Regions from separate parts of the Homo sapiens genome. Here all the other regions are linked to region 1. The links come from fine-mapping of genetic effects on gene expression. A gene starts in region 1. Each other region holds a variant in brackets. All regions are shown on one strand. Distances are from middle to middle. Region 1 holds the start of CDH4-AS2 (CDH4 antisense RNA 2). Region 2 has its middle 160 kb from the start of LINC01718. Region 3 overlaps CDH4 (cadherin 4).

Region 1 (5,257 bases):
ATCCCCAAGCCTCACCAATGCCCCCTTCCAGAGAAGCATATCACCAGCCCTCAACAACACTGCCCCAAGGGGAAATGTGCATGGTGCATTATGCAAATGAAGCGTTTCTCCTGAGGTAATTATCCCTGTGCAATTCTGACATGAAGTCTTGATAAAGAATTGTTTTTTAAGATAGCAGTGAAAAAGCCCAGCTAAATGCATAAAAGTTATATGACATTTTACCCTTGGGTGTAAATTATAATTTGCAGAAAGGTCAATGAACCAGAAATGATTTTTTTTCTGATGATTTAGACACTGAGAAGCAGGAGGGCTGGAGGCAGAGGGAGAGCCCCTGGTGTCCATCCTCCAGGCCGGGGTGGGCTCCTCTTCTGGAGAGGACTGTCCAGCAGCCTGGCCAACCATGCCTGGCCTTAATTCCATCCATTTCTAGTGAGTTACAGCTTCTGCTGAATGCACATTAGAAGATGGTGAAAGAAAGCTCTGGGCTTTCCTTAGAGAGCAAAGCATGCTCTCAGTGAAGGGCAGCCTCTGGACTGGACCCTTCTGGCTGCTGAGAAGAGACATACTCATCCTGGAGGCATTCAATTCACCTCCCGCTTCAGGTCACTGAGTCCCACTGTGCGCTTAGCTCCTACTCTGTGCTAGAGCTACTGGAGGGTGCAAGAGTGGCAAGCTACCTCGGGAGGAGCTCAGGGCAGGGAGCCGGGGGGACACATGGTGTGGCCTTGGAGAGCTGAACCCTCGGAACGTCGGATCTGACCAAGCACAATGCCCAGAAACCACCAGGCACTCGCCTGTAGCCAACAAGTCAGGTTTAATGACTCACTGGACCAAGGGAAGCCACCAAGCTAATGGTTACTGTCTCATGTCAAAGGGAAATAACCACCTCTACCTGGCAGGGTGTTTGAGACAATTCAATGTGATGGTACAATGAGAGAACACGCCTCCCCGACCCCTACAATCCCCAGCTTTTAGAGGCAGCTGGGAGGTTTAGCTGAATAGGGAGGAGCCTGTGTGTATCCACGGATCAGAAAATCACGCTGGAGAGAAAAGCATGCAAGCAAATACACAGAACACAGACACAAGACGATGGCTTAGGAATGGCACTCTGCACCCCTGCATGCTGCACCCCTGCACTGTACACCCCTACTCTGTACCCCTGTACTCTGCACCCCTGCACCCCTACACTCTGCACCCCATACCCCTCCACTCTGTACCCCTCCACTCTGCATCCCTGCACCCCTACACCCCTGCATTCTCCACCCCTTCACCCCTCCACTCTGCACCCCTACATCTTGCATCCCTGCACCCCTACACACTTACACTTCGCACCCCTGCACCCCTACACTCTGCACCCCTGCACGTGTCCCCTGCATCACTCTCAAGTTGCTGCCCTGCTTCCTGGTGAGTCAAGACCAAGCTGTGGAATCCGGAGCAGGATGGGGGGCCAGGAGGTGCGGCCCATAGAGCACAGAACTAAACCTGGCTGCTGCATCCTTGAGAGATGGGGAGACTTCAGCTCCTCTCACCACCAACGTTCGCCCAAAACATGAGTCAACTTACGTGAACATGCCCTCCACCCGAAGGCAGGAGGGCCCTGCAGACACACGGGCGATGCTGCCAAACAGCAGGCGGCACTCCCCAACCCCCACCGCCGACTGCCCTCCACTACCGCCTCCTTCTCCGTTACTGAGACATGGGAGGAACTTGCAAGAAGGAAGACGCCCGCTCACCCATGAGCATGGTGCAAAGTGGTAACTGCGGTGCTTAAACTCTGGGAGGGAGCACACCGCAATGTCTTATCACCTTTTCTGCTGTTCACAAAAGCAAGGTGCTTCCCCACCAGCCGCGCCTTCATCTCAACAGTCAGGGCTGCAAGGTTTATCTTAATTTAAAAAACAATTACAAGCGAAACAGAAACTGCCAGGAATTATCCACTCTTCAGAAGGAAAGAACAAAAGGAAGTGACGAGAGACAGGGCCCCATCTTGTCGTATGATATTAACACGGCTGCTCGGAAACACCTCGAGAGAGACACCAGCTTTCCCCACGCTCTTCCTTTGGTTTCTCTTCTGGGGGGACATTGGATCGCACAGCTTTGCAGGTGAGCACAGCCTAAACATAGCTCCATGCGTTTTGCATCCATAACTCTAAAGGCTTTTGTGATTTAAAGCGGCAATTATACAGAGGAACGAGATAAAGACTCCCGAGAAATTATCTCTCTTTGGGTTGGGAGGGGAAGAAAAGCCAGCGAAGGTTAATGTAGTTAGTGAAATATTTCCACAGTTATTTCACGCAAGCATTTTGCAATATTGCTAATGTTTTTGCACATTACATGCTCTTCCAGGGGAAAAACAGCTTGTGTTTTTGAAAGCAAGGAATAAAAACCTCACAGGCCTCCGTGGCTGACTCGTACCTTGGAAGATTCTGCAATGAGGCCACACGGCACAGAAATGTTCTTTTACATCCAGACACTAAACAGTGGCTTGCATCCTTCTCTGTATTAGCAATGAACAAAAACTACCAAGACTTAAAAAAAAAAATCTCTGATTAGAACCCATGGATGCTGACAATTATGTGTGGCTTTCAGATGCAAAGCCATTTGGCTGCAGGTGACATGAAGAGGCTGGGATACGATTTTGATCATTTGCTTTCGCCAGCACTTCCTATTAGCACGAGTGTGGCCAGGGAGGGTCCTTCTCTCATCACACTTAGAGCCACTCGTGATGCTGAGTGTGCTCTTTCATCTGGTGCAGGGCAGGGGGCAGGGCGAGGAGAGAAGACCCCTGCTTCACCCACTAACCAACACCCTGGGCTGGAAGAGCTCCAACAAGCAGCAGACAGAGAGTTCCATCCCCAGCCTGACAGCAGGAACAGTGAAGTCCAAGATAGAGCCAGCTGTCGCTGGGAGCCCGGGATGGTGGGTGCAGCCTCCTCCGCAGCTGGTGAGAGTGTGTGTGTGCAGGGGTGTAGGGTGGCCTGTTAGCCTAGTGTCTCCTGCACTCAAATGCCCTGTTTCAGTTGAGTAAGCTAATTCACACAGTGTCATGCAGGCTCCTCTGGCTTCGGTTCAAGTTAATGTCCCATTGAAAGGCTTCTGTTCACCTTAGGACACCCAGTCGGGTAGCCCCTGCAGCGCTCTGCCCTGTGAGCCTGTGCAGGTGGTGCTTGGCTGTGATCGAGGTTGGCCTGTTCCAGGAAGGGAAGCACGGCCTGGGATATGGGACGGCACTGTCCTGGCACTGCCTCTAACCAGCGTCAGCCTTAGCAGGCACCTGCCTCCTTCTGTGTTGGGTGTGTCCAGAGCCAGAGAGGAGCATTCCTTTTCATCACACCTGAATTATCTCCTTCAACACCCAGAGGGACCAGGCTCCCACCCTTGGCATGATCCAGGAAGAACAGTGACTCGAGTGTGGCTTGGCAGCGCCTTACAGGAGAGGCAGGGATGCCGAGAAGGGCAGGTTTGGGCTTCCCCCGGAGGCAGAGTGGGGTCTGGAAGGCAGGGCCCCTTGGACAGCATATACCCTTCACCCTGCCCTGGGGAAGGCAGCAGGACCCAGCGGCTCAGTCTTCCGGGTGGGTCCTAACCAGCCCCACCCCCACAGTGTGGGTGCTCCCTTGCCTTCTCTGGGACCAGGTCAGCGTGGCTACAGTAAAGGGCCGCATCCCTTCACAGGGGACGCTACCCACAGAGGCCAGCATTGGTAGGGTGCTGAGGATGTGATGTGTGAGGTTGTAGGGGACATCAGGGCCTTCTGTGGCACAGGCAGGACTTGACCTCAGGCGGTGGGCTCCTCGGCCTCCCTCACAGTGCCAGAGCCCACTCTCCTGTCTCCATGTCAGTCCCTTCCACTAAACTAGCCCAACACCTGGTTCACGGCTACCTGAGCACACTGGGGGCTGGGGGCGGGGGGCAGGGCGGTGATGCACACTTATTAAAACCAAGTATCAGACATGGTGGCTCACGCCTGTCATCCCAGCACGTTGGGAGGCCGAGGCCGGCAGATCACCTTAAGGTCAGGAGTTCGAGACCAGCCTGACCAACATGGTGAAAACCTGCCTCTATGAAAAATTCAAAATTATCCAGGTGTGGTGGTGTGCGCCTGTAATCCCAGCTACTCAGGGGGCTGAGGCAGGAGAATCACTTGAACCCAGGATGCAGAGGTTGCAGTGAACCAAGATCGCACCACTGCACTCCAGCTTCGGTGACAGGGCGAGACTCCATCTCAAAAAAACAAACAAACAAACAAAAAAACAACGACAAAAAACCAAAAACCAAAAACCAAAAAAACCCCACGAAATATCTGTGGGGGGAAACTGTGCTTCCAGCTGCCCAAGTGATGGGCGCCACTGCAAAGAGTCCCCGTGCTCAGAGAGCAGCAGCGTCTGTGGCTGGTCCTGCCCAGTACTGGGCCACTCTCTGTCCTGTCCACCCTGTGTTGTCACTAGCTCCCGGTGGCATGGTGCTCATGGCCCTGTGGCTGTCCTGGGCTGCTCCCGCTCCCCTGCCTTTGTCCTGTGACAGCAGCAGCAGTGGGGACAAGTCAAGGGGGACTTGGTGCATGTTGAGTGCTTTACTCATCTCTGCCAAGCAGGAGGAGCTGCTCCTGCCACCCTGCCCTGACGCCCTGCCCTGCTCATGGCCCAGCATGCTGAGGAGCAGGGATGGGAAGAAGCTGCTGGCACTGGCAGCCAGTGGGCCATGACGAGGGTGCAGAGGGTTTCCTCTACCTGGTGAATGCCTGCCCAAGAACCACATTCCACAGCCTCAAGGTCAGTTATACATCAAGGACCTTGGATTTTATTTATTATTTATTTATTTTTTTGAGATAGAGGCTCACTCTGTTGCCCAGGCTCGAGTACAGTGGTGGGATCTCAGCTCCCTGCAACCTCTGCCTCCCAGGTTTGAGCAATTCTCCTGCTTCAGCCTCCTTAGTAGCTGGGATTACAGGCACCCACCAAACACCTAGCTAATTTTTGTATTTTTAGTAGAGATGGGGTTTCACCATGTTGGCCAGGCTGGTCTCAAACTCCTGACTTCAGATGATCCTCCTGCCTCGGCCTCCCAAAGTGCTGGGATTACAGGTGTGAACACCACACTTGATCCAACCTCAGCTATTAGATGAAGCGAAGGGCTTTGGTGAGTCTTTCTTTGCGGGACACAAGCCTGCACTATTCTGTAGACAAGCCCATGGGGATTACCTTAGTGGGTGCCTGTGGACAGGTGAAAAGCAGCACTCAGACCTCCAGTGAGGATG
Region 2 (5,257 bases), 800 kb after region 1:
TATCTCAAAAAGCACAGGAGCCAACTGAAAACTCCTAATGACCAAAGCTGAGCCAAGGAGGCCAACTAAAGGAGCAATAAAGGCATGGGTTATAACTCAACTTATAAAATAAATCTCCACTAACCTATTTTGATATAAATTAATGGTTAAATGAATGAACAAATAAATAAACAAGGAGAAAAGACAATTTTCCAATGAAGGATAATTTCAAATAATTTACACAGATACCCTGCCTTCATGAGTAGGATTCCATGAGTAGAAGCAAGACTCCTACCCCATAGGTATTAACTACACATAGTGGCTTCCTTCCATAGAGTACAGGATGGAAGCCATCCATCCATAGGGTGGATTATAGAATGGAAAGGGGGAGATAGAGTAACTTTACAACAGACAAACCTGACCATCGCTACCTCAGCCAGGTGATCAAGGCTGATGCAGGCAGGCAGTAATGTCATGCATATACTATGTACCTTTGATATGATGTGATAGGAACTCTTATTCACTGCTGTTGTGAATGCACATTGGTAAAGCTACTTTACCAGTTTCTTACAAAGCCAAAGATGTTCCTGTAATCAAGAATAGGAAAAGCACTTTACCTCTGTGGCTTTCTTCCCCCAAACCCATAACTCCAGTCTAACCATGAGAAGACATCAAACGAATTCCAATAGAGGGGTATCCTCCAAAATTGTAGTTAATGATGTATTAATATTGGTTCATTAATTGTGACAAATGTATCATGGTAATGTAAGATGTTAATTGGACAAAAAATTGGATGTGGGGTGTACACGGACCCTCTGTACTAGCTTCTAATTTTTTCTGTAAATCTAAAACTGTTCTAAAAATAAAGTCTATTATATAATTGTTCTCTGTTAGACATAGTTGAGATAGATATTGCTCAATGCCAGATATGTTTTTTTGGTAAATAAATTTTGAGTTTTATTCTTGTATCTAGCATTCATTGAATGCCTGTTTACATGCCACATGTATTTCCCAGCTCTGAGAATAGAGCAGAGAACAAGGAGACGAGGTTCTCAGGATACTCATGGTCTTTCCTTTGTGCCACTGCTCTGCATTTCTTATGACATGGAAGTTGCTTTGCCAAGTGATTTACTTGTGCCTGAATTTGTCTTACTCTCTCCTACTATAGTAGGAGTTGCACTGACAACTTCAATGGGTCATATTCAACTCCCAAATCCCAAGCCTAGTGCAGTACCTGGCAAAAAAAAAAAAAAAAAAAAAAAAAAAAAAAAAAAAAAAGCACGTAATGGATCAACACATTCCTTCTTTAATTTACCAAATTATTATTAGATTTCTATTCTGTATTACACATTGCATTAGGTCAAAACTCACGGCTGCAAGATGTTGAGGATTTCTACCAACTCCCCCCATATGGGGCAACATGCAAATACAAGAACCATCTTTGGAACAAGCTGTGGGTAAGTGTGATACCCACTAACAGTTACAGAGAGCAAGCAGTGCTTGGTAATGATCTGTGTGCAGGTAGTTCCCACAGAAGGGAACTAGGCATTCAGCATGTGCTATGCCCCCAAATGTAGTGAATGGTTTGGATAATGACATTTTACAAATAACTTGCACCAATAAGAAGAAAGATTGCACTAAATTATTAATGGTGCTCATGGAGGCAGGGAAGGGGAGGAAAAATCTCCACATATTAACTTTTCCTGCTTCTCTAATCAAGAAAGGGCTGTAGCTGAAAGGGAAGAGATGGGATTAGGGGAAGTTTATTGCAGTGTGATTCCCTGCCCCTGCCATTTTCCCCATTAATCAGCCCACGTGTCTCAAGGCTGTGACTGACTTGTGTGCTGAAAATGATTTTGTCTCTAACATATGTTCAGGTAGGCTGCTCTCCTTCCACATTCAATAAATATTTATTGAGGTGGACCACATGCAGGTATGACTCTAGGTGTGGTGGATGCATGAGGGACATTGTCCTTGCCTTCATGTAGACTGCATTCTTCTGGGGAAGCTAGAAAATGAACAAATAGGCAAACAAATGAATATTTTAACATAGTTATGTATGTTAATAATGACTTTAGACACCTTCCCATGACCACTAATTCAGCCCTCTAGCTAAAATAACAGCTCTTTCTCTGTGTGTACTCCTTCCCTGGATGGTCATTTACGTTCCCTGGATGCCTTTCAATCTCATCTCCATCCACTCTTCTACCTGATCACCAGGATCCAGGTCCACCATGACCTCCTGTCTGCCTTAAACATGCCCAACTACCCCATCTCCCACTTCAGAGTCTTCATTGCTGTAATTTGCTCTGCCCAGAATCACCTTCATCACCTCAGACCCTTCTTATTCTTTTGGTTTTGGATTAATTTCTACCTCTTTGTAAGTCTCCATTTAGGTTTTAACTCCCCTTTACTCCAGAGGTGAAAAATGCAGGCTTCTGGTGACACTGCTGTCCAGCCCACACTGAGCTGAGGGTTTATGCGGCCTCAGCACTGAGGCATGCCCAGGTGCATTCAAACTATTCTGTGAGATGATTCTTTGCACCAATCCCTGTAGGGTTCCCATTGTCTTTGGCAAAGAAGCTTGTGCATGGCACTGAGTTGGGGCCAGAACATGGTTTGTGGAGAGTGGGTCAGCACTGGGGTGGGGCAGAGGCATATAGCTGGGCCCAAATTATAGTTTCTGCAATTAGCCAGCATCAGGCAGAATGGAAATGGGGGGAGGTGGCTGGCTTTGTGGAGCTGCAGCCAGAAGGCAACTTTCAGGGCGAGCAGAAACTCAAAAGCAGGAACTGTTCTTTTACCATCGCAGAACTAACATCACGCTCCTAACAGCAGCATCCGTTCAGC[G/A]CCTCGGACAGCTCCCAGGAAGCCAACAACCTGGACAGCTATGAAAGGACTTTTCACTCCACTTTTAAAGTAGTGGCATCCACCTTGGGGATAAAATGCAGACCAGGAAGTTACAACCTACAGCCCCCCAGGAGCTCTCAGTTCCTGACATAAGTAAAATCATTCATTCATTCACTCATGGTACACTCTTTGAGAGCCTCTTAATGGGCAGGGCTCACACTTGCAGGATGCTCCTTGGGTGTGCCTGCATCTACAGTGGGAGGGACTAGGTGCAGGTGGGTAATCCTGCTCGAGACACTGCTTCATTGTAGAAGGGGAGCCTTTGGAGCAAGGGAGGTAGGCTCACCTCCCAGCTCTGCCATTTACATGCTGAATGGTCTTGATATAAAAGGAAAATGATAATAAAGACACAAAGTTAAAAAACACTTCATTCCTCCACTTTCAAGCTCATCACCATCTATGCTGCTGGATTGTTGAAAGAACGATAATTAATGCCTGTGAAGGATCTAGCACAGAGCTTGGCACCTGGACCTCACCCAGTTAACGGTGTGTGTGAGGACTGCGGAGGGCACCAGCCCCCAGAGCCTCCAGCTCATCTTGTGGAGACCACGACACAGGCCTTATTCTTGGGCACTGAACAGAAGAGAAATATTGTTTTGATTTCATTTCATGGGCAATGCCCACAGAATGTATCTGCCTTGAAAAAACAAAAACAAAACCCCCATTGCTTTCTAACCTGCTATACTGAATTCAGTGCAGCCCCTCCATGGGAAATGGCTGGTCAAGCTGGCCTGAGTTCTCAACACCACATACTTAATATACAAAGCCCGTCACACAATAGTGCCTTCCTAGGGCTCCATCCATCTTGTGAAGGCAGAAGGCTGGCAGCTTCCCCACAGTGAGACCATTGGAGGTGTTCACTGCAGTGGGTATTCCACCTTCCTTCCCTGTCAACGGCGAGTAAGAGGCTGTTTCTGCAAAGCCCCTATTCTCTTTCCTTTCATGTTCCTGTCACTGCGGAGTTTGCATGGGGGCTATTGTGTAGCACTCTAATTGTTTCCAGGAATAGGTGATGTTGCCTTAGAAAGCTAAAAACCCCACCATGTCCCCATTGAGAACTGGAGGCTCATTCCCTTTAAATATGTAAATATGTCACACCCTCTCTGTGGCGTGCACAGCCTGAAGCTCTCCAGGCTGATTGCTTAGATTTGAGGACTTTCTGACAGTTTGAGCACAGGAAACAATGAGAGGGAGAGAGAGATGGAAAAGGAGAGAGGAGGAGGGGAGAGAGAGACTGAGAGAGGGAGAGAGACTGAGAGAGAGAGAAAGAGATGGGGGGAGAGAGAGAGAGAGAGAGAGCAAGAGAGAGAGAGAGGAGAGCAGCACAGAGCAATACATTTCTCTTCCTTAAAAGAGACACCAAAGTTGACAGAACCATCCTTTCATTTCCGTATTAGACTCTCCAGAGCATTCTTATTTAGGTAGCAATCTTTTAGAAAAGATACCACTTTCCGCAAAACACACAAACACCTAATTCACTGGGGTGATATTTGCCATGGCAATTTTTTAGATAAAGAGCTATTTTGTAGAGTTCTGTGAACAAGGCATTTTTAATAGTTGTAGGCTGATCCTTTGCTGGTGGAAACATCCTCATTCCCATGGCTCCTGGCAGAATGTCTGAGCTTTTATCTGTATTTCTGTAGAACACCAGGACCAGTACTCATTCCATGAGAGTCCAAAAAAGGGAGGTCCTACGTGGTGGTGGTCAGATCATTTTGGGCATCTGAGTATCCTGAGTCAGGCAGCTTGTCTTGAAGGGCACAGGCACTGGAAGTCATAGACTTCATGGTCATAGGTGGGACCTGGATGAAGTGCATCTCCCAATTCCCTGGTGCCCCCAGAGTCTGTTTATGCTGTGGGTCTTCTGTAGCTCCTCTGTCCTACCTTTCAACCACTTCTTGCTCACATGCTCAGAAATGGAATAAGAACTTGTTCAGGCTACGTTGTCCACGGCTGACAATAAGGTGTGACCCTTCCTAGTGGATTTTTAATTTAACATGTCTTAATAAAAAACTATGGCTATTTTATTTTTATGGATAGTTTTACTGTTAAATGAAATGGTAATACAAGTCTAAGCAAAAACATTACAATCTCATTTCCTATGCTATTATACACTTAGCAAATTTCTGGTCAATATCCTTTGGTGTTTTCCTAGAATGTAAGTTTCACAAAGCATAAGACTATCTATTTTATTCACTGCTAATTCAGTGTCTAGAAATGCCTGGCACCCAGAAGGTTCTCAGACTGAACTTATTTAGTGAACGTAATGAATAAGTGAATGTGATTATTCAATTTTTATTATATCTGTGGTAGTTTAGTCCGTAACTTCTATGTTGCACTTTTTATTTCACATTACCATGCTTATTTT
Region 3 (5,257 bases), 110 kb before region 1:
TATTCTTATTTTGTTGCCTGCATTCTTTCTGTCTCGCCCACTGGACTGTAAGCTTAGGAAGCCGGTCTGTGACGACACAGCACCAGCCTCCAGCGGTGTCTGGACAGCTGCTCAGAAGAGTGAGAGACTCTCTGAAAACTGTCTGGGGCAGATGTGAGGCGTCCAAGGAGCTCCTTGAACTTGATGGCTAACAAGAGCTGTCACTGCACAGAAGCCAGAGTGGAGGCAGCTTCTGCTTCTGACTCGGGCTAGGAATAATCCTGCCTATCAGAGAGCCACACAGCTAAAGCCAAGTCCAAAGCCGAGACGGGTTCTTTGTTGTTTCAGCCCGTGAGGCTGCGGGGATAGGCAGCGCCAAGTGTCAACCTGTAGCGCAGCGTGTTCGCCCTCAGAGGTGTCGCCCATGCCATCCCCTGATTAGTCCCTGTCATTTTCTGGCTCCAACATGAGAAGTCAGGAGTCTCGTCAGAAAACCTTCATTGATATTTAATGCACGCGTCCCCACCTGTCTCTGGAAGGTCTTGTCACACAGCGTCTACTTTCCTCTAACAGGACCTGTCTGCCCCTGTAAATGTGCCACACTGCTGGGGATACGGGAGCAGGGTCCTGTCCCTTGGGGGCCGGGCTGGAAGATGCAGGGAGCTTAGACCCTGCCTGGGCTGGAGCACAGGTGCAGGTGTAGTGGGAGCCCAAGGGGGCCAGTGTCCAGCAGAAAAGATGGAGGCCAGACCCCAGACCCCAGGCCCCAGATCCTAGGCCACAGGCCCCAGAAGGAGAGGCAGCTGAGTGAGGGGGGGCAAGGGGCAGCAAAGGAGGGCATTTAGGGGCAGCAAGGAAGCCATGAGGCTGGAGTCAGGCCCGAGAAGGAGGTTGCCGTCAGCCCTGGCTTTGCCTGCCGAGACCCACTTCTGCCAGTCTTTGGAAATCACCCCGGCCCACCCTTGCTCTGCATGGACTGTGTGGGGGAACCATCCCACCTGGCCCCAGGACAGCCATGGGACCCCACGTGGACCAATGAGAGTGCACCTCCCTGGGCACTGTGATTGGCTAGGAAGGACATGTGACCCACGCTGGGCCAATAGGAAGGAGACCTGCCAGAATGGATGTCTCCCACTCCTGCACCCTGTGCCTCCAGGCAGTGCTCCCATAGACGAAGAGGAGGGGGCGCCTCCTCACTGGCTCTTCACTTTGGGAAATGGTTTTATCTCCTCATCTGGAAATGGGATTTTTTAAATCCAGCCTGCAGAGCTGTTGCCAAGAGTATATGAAAGATGGTAACTGAGGATCTGCAGTGTCTGTAATTCGATGCTGATGGCCGAGTGCTGTGCTCAGTCACCATGGGGGCTGAGTACTGTGCTCAGTCAGTTATAAGGGCTGAGTACTGTGCTTGGTCAGTTATGAGGGCTCAGTACTGTGCTCAGTCAGTAATGAAGGCTGAGTACTCTTGCTTAGTAATGTGGGTTGAATACTGAGCTTTGTCAATAAATGAAGGCTGAATACTGATGTTTGTGAATAAATCTGGGCTTTTTGTGTTGTCAGTAATGAGGCCTGAGTACTATGCTATGTCACTAAATGTGGGCTGAATATTGGTTTAATCATTAATTTAATCAGTAATAATGCCGGAATACTATGTTTGCTGTCTCCCCCGGAGAGCTCTGCATACTAGTAGACACACAGAAAGTGCTCTGCAAACCAGAGTGGATGATTGAATGAAACAAGGGACAAGGGGCAATAAATATCTGTATATCCAGCCTGGAGGTCCCAGACCACAAGAATAAAATGATTTAATTTAGGTTTTTACTGCATGATGGCACTTTTAGGTCTCGTCCATTGGAAACGTCAGAAATCCCAATGTAACTGGCTCAAGCAAAAAGGCAATGTGCTGGCTCCTATCCTGGAGTGGTGTGGGTTTCAGGCATGGCTGGATCATGCGGGCTGAGTACTGTGTTCACTCACTCATGGGGGCTGAGTACCGTGCTCAGTCCATTATGAGGGTGACCATTCTGACGGGGCTCTCAGCACTTGCTCAGCCCACCCCTCAGACTCGCAGGTACTCTCTCCCCTTCTGCTGCCTCACACTTCTGTGCTTACATCCCATCAGCCTAGCAGCCCCAGGGGTAACAGCAATAGGCTGACATTACAATTTTGACAGTACTAGTAATAGCATCAGTGTCAGGGGCACAGAAATAAGAGGTCGTAGAACCAGTGATGATGGTAATGACAACGGATGCTTCCCTAACTAGTTTGCAGTGCCAGGCAGTACCCCAGGTGGTATGGTTAGACTTTGTGTCCCCACCCGAATCTCATCTTGAATTGTAATACCCAGGTGTTGAGAGGGAGACCTGGTGGGAGATGAATGGATCATGGGGGCAGTTCCCCCATGCAGTTCTCATGAGAGTGAGTGAGTCTCACGAGATCTGATGGTTTCATAAGTGTCTGGCGTGTCCCCTGCTCGCACTTCTCTCTCCTGCCTCCATGTGAAGAAGGTCCTTGCTTCCCCTTCGCCTTCTGCCCTGATTGTCAGTTTCTTGAGGCTTCCCAAGCCCTGTGGAACTGTGAGTCAATTAAACCTGTTTCCTTTGTAAACTATCCAGTCTTGGATAGTATCTTTACAGCAGTGTGAAAATGAACTAGTACACTAGTCACATTACATCCATCCACTCACTTACTCATCAC[C/T]ACAACCCAAGGCAGTGCCGTTAATACAGACAAGGCCATTCATATGCAGCCCTTCCCTGTTACAGATGAGGAAACTGCAGCACAGGGAGGTTGAGTCACTCACCCAAGATCACACAGCTCACAAGCCCTTGAGCTGGGATCCAGAACCCAGGTGTCCTGGCCCCAGTGCCCCTGCTCTGACCCACCAGCTCCCTGCCTCAGTAGGGAAGGTGGCTGTTTCCAGACAGCTCCGTCAAATGTCCTGGGGCAGACACTCATTGGCTCTTACCCCAGCCTTGAAGCAGCTGCCATGGCTGGAGGTTGGAATGGGTACATCTACCAGGCCTGGGTTGGCAGCAGCATCCACCCAACTTGCAGGATGAGTGGGCAAGGTGGTCTCCTGGTCAAAGGAGATGGAAGGAGGAAGTGGATGCAGGCAGGCTCCAGCCGCTCCTGCCCAGGCCCGAGGCTTCCAGCCAGTCCTACCTGTCGGGTGCCTGTGCCACATCTCATAGCCTTCTGGAAGCCATGAGCCTCTCGGCCTCTGTGGGAATGAAGGCAAATGCTGGAGAGGCTGGAGGATTCAGAATTGTGCACACCACGTGCCAGTGACACCTTCTCCCCTTAACGCTGGGAATCCCACTGCAGGGGTGGTATGTTGCGGAGAAATCCCTGTCCCCCCACCCCGCCCAGGAGCCTGGAGGGACCACATGAGGGTGTGCAGGGTGGGCCTGGGGTCCTGAGGGGGAGGAGGCTGCACTGTGGCCTGCCGGACATTTGCTTTGTTCGGCATCAAAGTTTGATGAGGACAGGGACCTGCTGCATGGTTCAGGTGAAGCATAAGACCAGAAGCTAGCGAAAAGCTGGTATTAATGGAAGGTCAGGGAGTAGCGCATTCGGGGTGTCAGGCCTGGCTGTGGCCAAGGGACTCACCCGTCCTGGAGGGGGTGCAGGCTCTACAGGTGCAGGGATTTGAGCACAGGCTCTGCTAACAGAGGCCTGGGGCTCTTCCCTCGAGACTTCACTGCTCGCTAAAATGGACAACTTTTTACAAAGAAATGGCTGCTTCTCAGTTGAAATTCAGCCTGGAAGTGGGCCAGGTCTTTGCTGGTCACCACGAGGACCCATCACCATGATTTATCCTTTTAATTGAAATTTCACTTTTATTTATCCTCAAGTGCAGGGCATGTTCCCAGTGCCAGATGTGGTCAGGGCAGCCACAGGAAGGAAGCTTTGGCCGCCTGGTCTACCAGGGACATAACGCCAGTGTGAGGCTGGTGAGGAGGCTGAGAAGATCGATTTCAAGCAAACTCCATTCACAAAAGCTCCCCCAAGAGTTGAGGGTAGCCAGTGCCTCCAGGAGGGGCGAGACCCCGGCCCTCTTTCCCAGAGTTCTTCCCTTTCCCTGCCCTCGAGGCCTTCAGAGCTCAGCTTCAAACCCCACTCCAGGAGCCCTCCCGACTGACATTTCAATTTCCTAACTGCAGCAGCGGGTTCCTGCACCATCAACAAACAGGGCATCAGGAGAGAGGAGCGGAGGTGGGCAGTTGGCAAGCTCCTGCAGCTCCGAGACTCAGCACGTGCGACCAAGAGCAAGATGTGTAGAGGCAAGAAAGGGCGCCCAGAAGCGGAAGTAAATGACCGCGGAGTGAAGCCAGCGCCGCCCGCTCCTGCCGCTCTGCAGGGCCTGCCTGCGATGGATTCTGGCCTCGGGGGAAGAACTTAATGGGTGAGGAAGGGGGACCAAGTTCATTTCAGTGTCTCTCCGGAGCACACGCTAGGGCGTCTGTTGAGGTGGGCAAGCTCAGCATGGGGGAGGCCTGGGAGGCGGGGCCGCTGCAGATCTCCTGGGGTTCCTGTCAGCCCAGCCCCACCTCACCAGCAGCAGAAACGGGGCAACCTGGGCTGGCCAGGTCCTGGGGGGCCTTGGGAGGTGGTGGCCCTGGGCCGGATGGCAGAGGCCCCGGGAGGTGTGTGCTGCCCTCCTGGATGCAGGGGGACAGGTGGAGTGTGGCAGGCGGTAGAAGCCCAGGGAGGGTCCCGGGGAAGCACGCTTAGGGCCTGCTGTCTCTGAGGCAGAGGATGTGGATGGACTTGAGTATGTTCCACGCAGGACGCTGAGCCCCAGGATGTGCCGTGCTGCGCAGGTGCAGGGATGTGGCCTCTGACAAGAGAGGACTCGCCTGCTCCCTCGGAGCCTCTGTCTAGTGAGAACAGGAGGCATGCTCAATTTCACCTGGGGGCGGGGGGCTCCAAGGAGATGGATCTGGGTCACATGAACGGGTGTGGGGGTGGGGCATGGGGGTAGAACTGCGGGAGTGGGGTTGGGGGGCAGTCCCCATGAAGGTAGGGCTGTGGGGGACAGAAAAAAAATTTAGAGATCTGGGGCCTGCAAGGGTTTCCATAGCATGTAATGGGAGTTTGGGTCGGCTTGCCAAACACACCAAACCACCCACCTGCACTTCCCACACCTGCCTCCCAGCCCCAGGGCCGGCCGGGCAGGAGCCTCGTCCCTCCCACCCCAGCAGGCTAGGGGCGGGAGGGATGAGGGAAATGAGCTTTGCCCCTGGTCCAAGGGGACTGGGGTCTGGAGGAGGGCTGC

Evidence for each region. PIP is the estimated chance that this variant, and not a neighbour inherited with it, causes the effect. A credible set is the group of variants that fine-mapping cannot tell apart.
Region 2: its variant is the best candidate, but not a certain one, in a credible set for the expression of CDH4-AS2 in whole blood (TOPMed, PIP 0.64).
Region 3: its variant is the best candidate, but not a certain one, in a credible set for the expression of CDH4-AS2 in whole blood (TOPMed, PIP 0.77).

The regions. Positions count from the first base shown.
Region 1 is chr20:61,716,476-61,721,732 of GRCh38, reverse strand. CDH4-AS2 (CDH4 antisense RNA 2) reads left to right here and starts at 1,985. Exons shown (of 2, transcript NR_147702.1): 1 at 1,985-2,103; 2 at 2,347-4,227. The region is part of intron 2 of CDH4 (cadherin 4); the gene reads right to left.
Region 2 is chr20:60,918,811-60,924,067 of GRCh38, reverse strand. No RefSeq gene overlaps it. Among named protein-coding and RNA genes, the nearest start is that of LINC01718, 160 kb to the left of the region's middle. RefSeq lists a silencer at 2,748-2,948. The variant G/A (reference allele first, on the strand shown) is at 2,830.
Region 3 is chr20:61,829,805-61,835,061 of GRCh38, reverse strand. The region is part of intron 4 of CDH4 (cadherin 4); the gene reads right to left. Among named protein-coding and RNA genes, the nearest start is that of CDH4-AS1, 77 kb to the right of the region's middle. The variant C/T (reference allele first, on the strand shown) is at 2,677.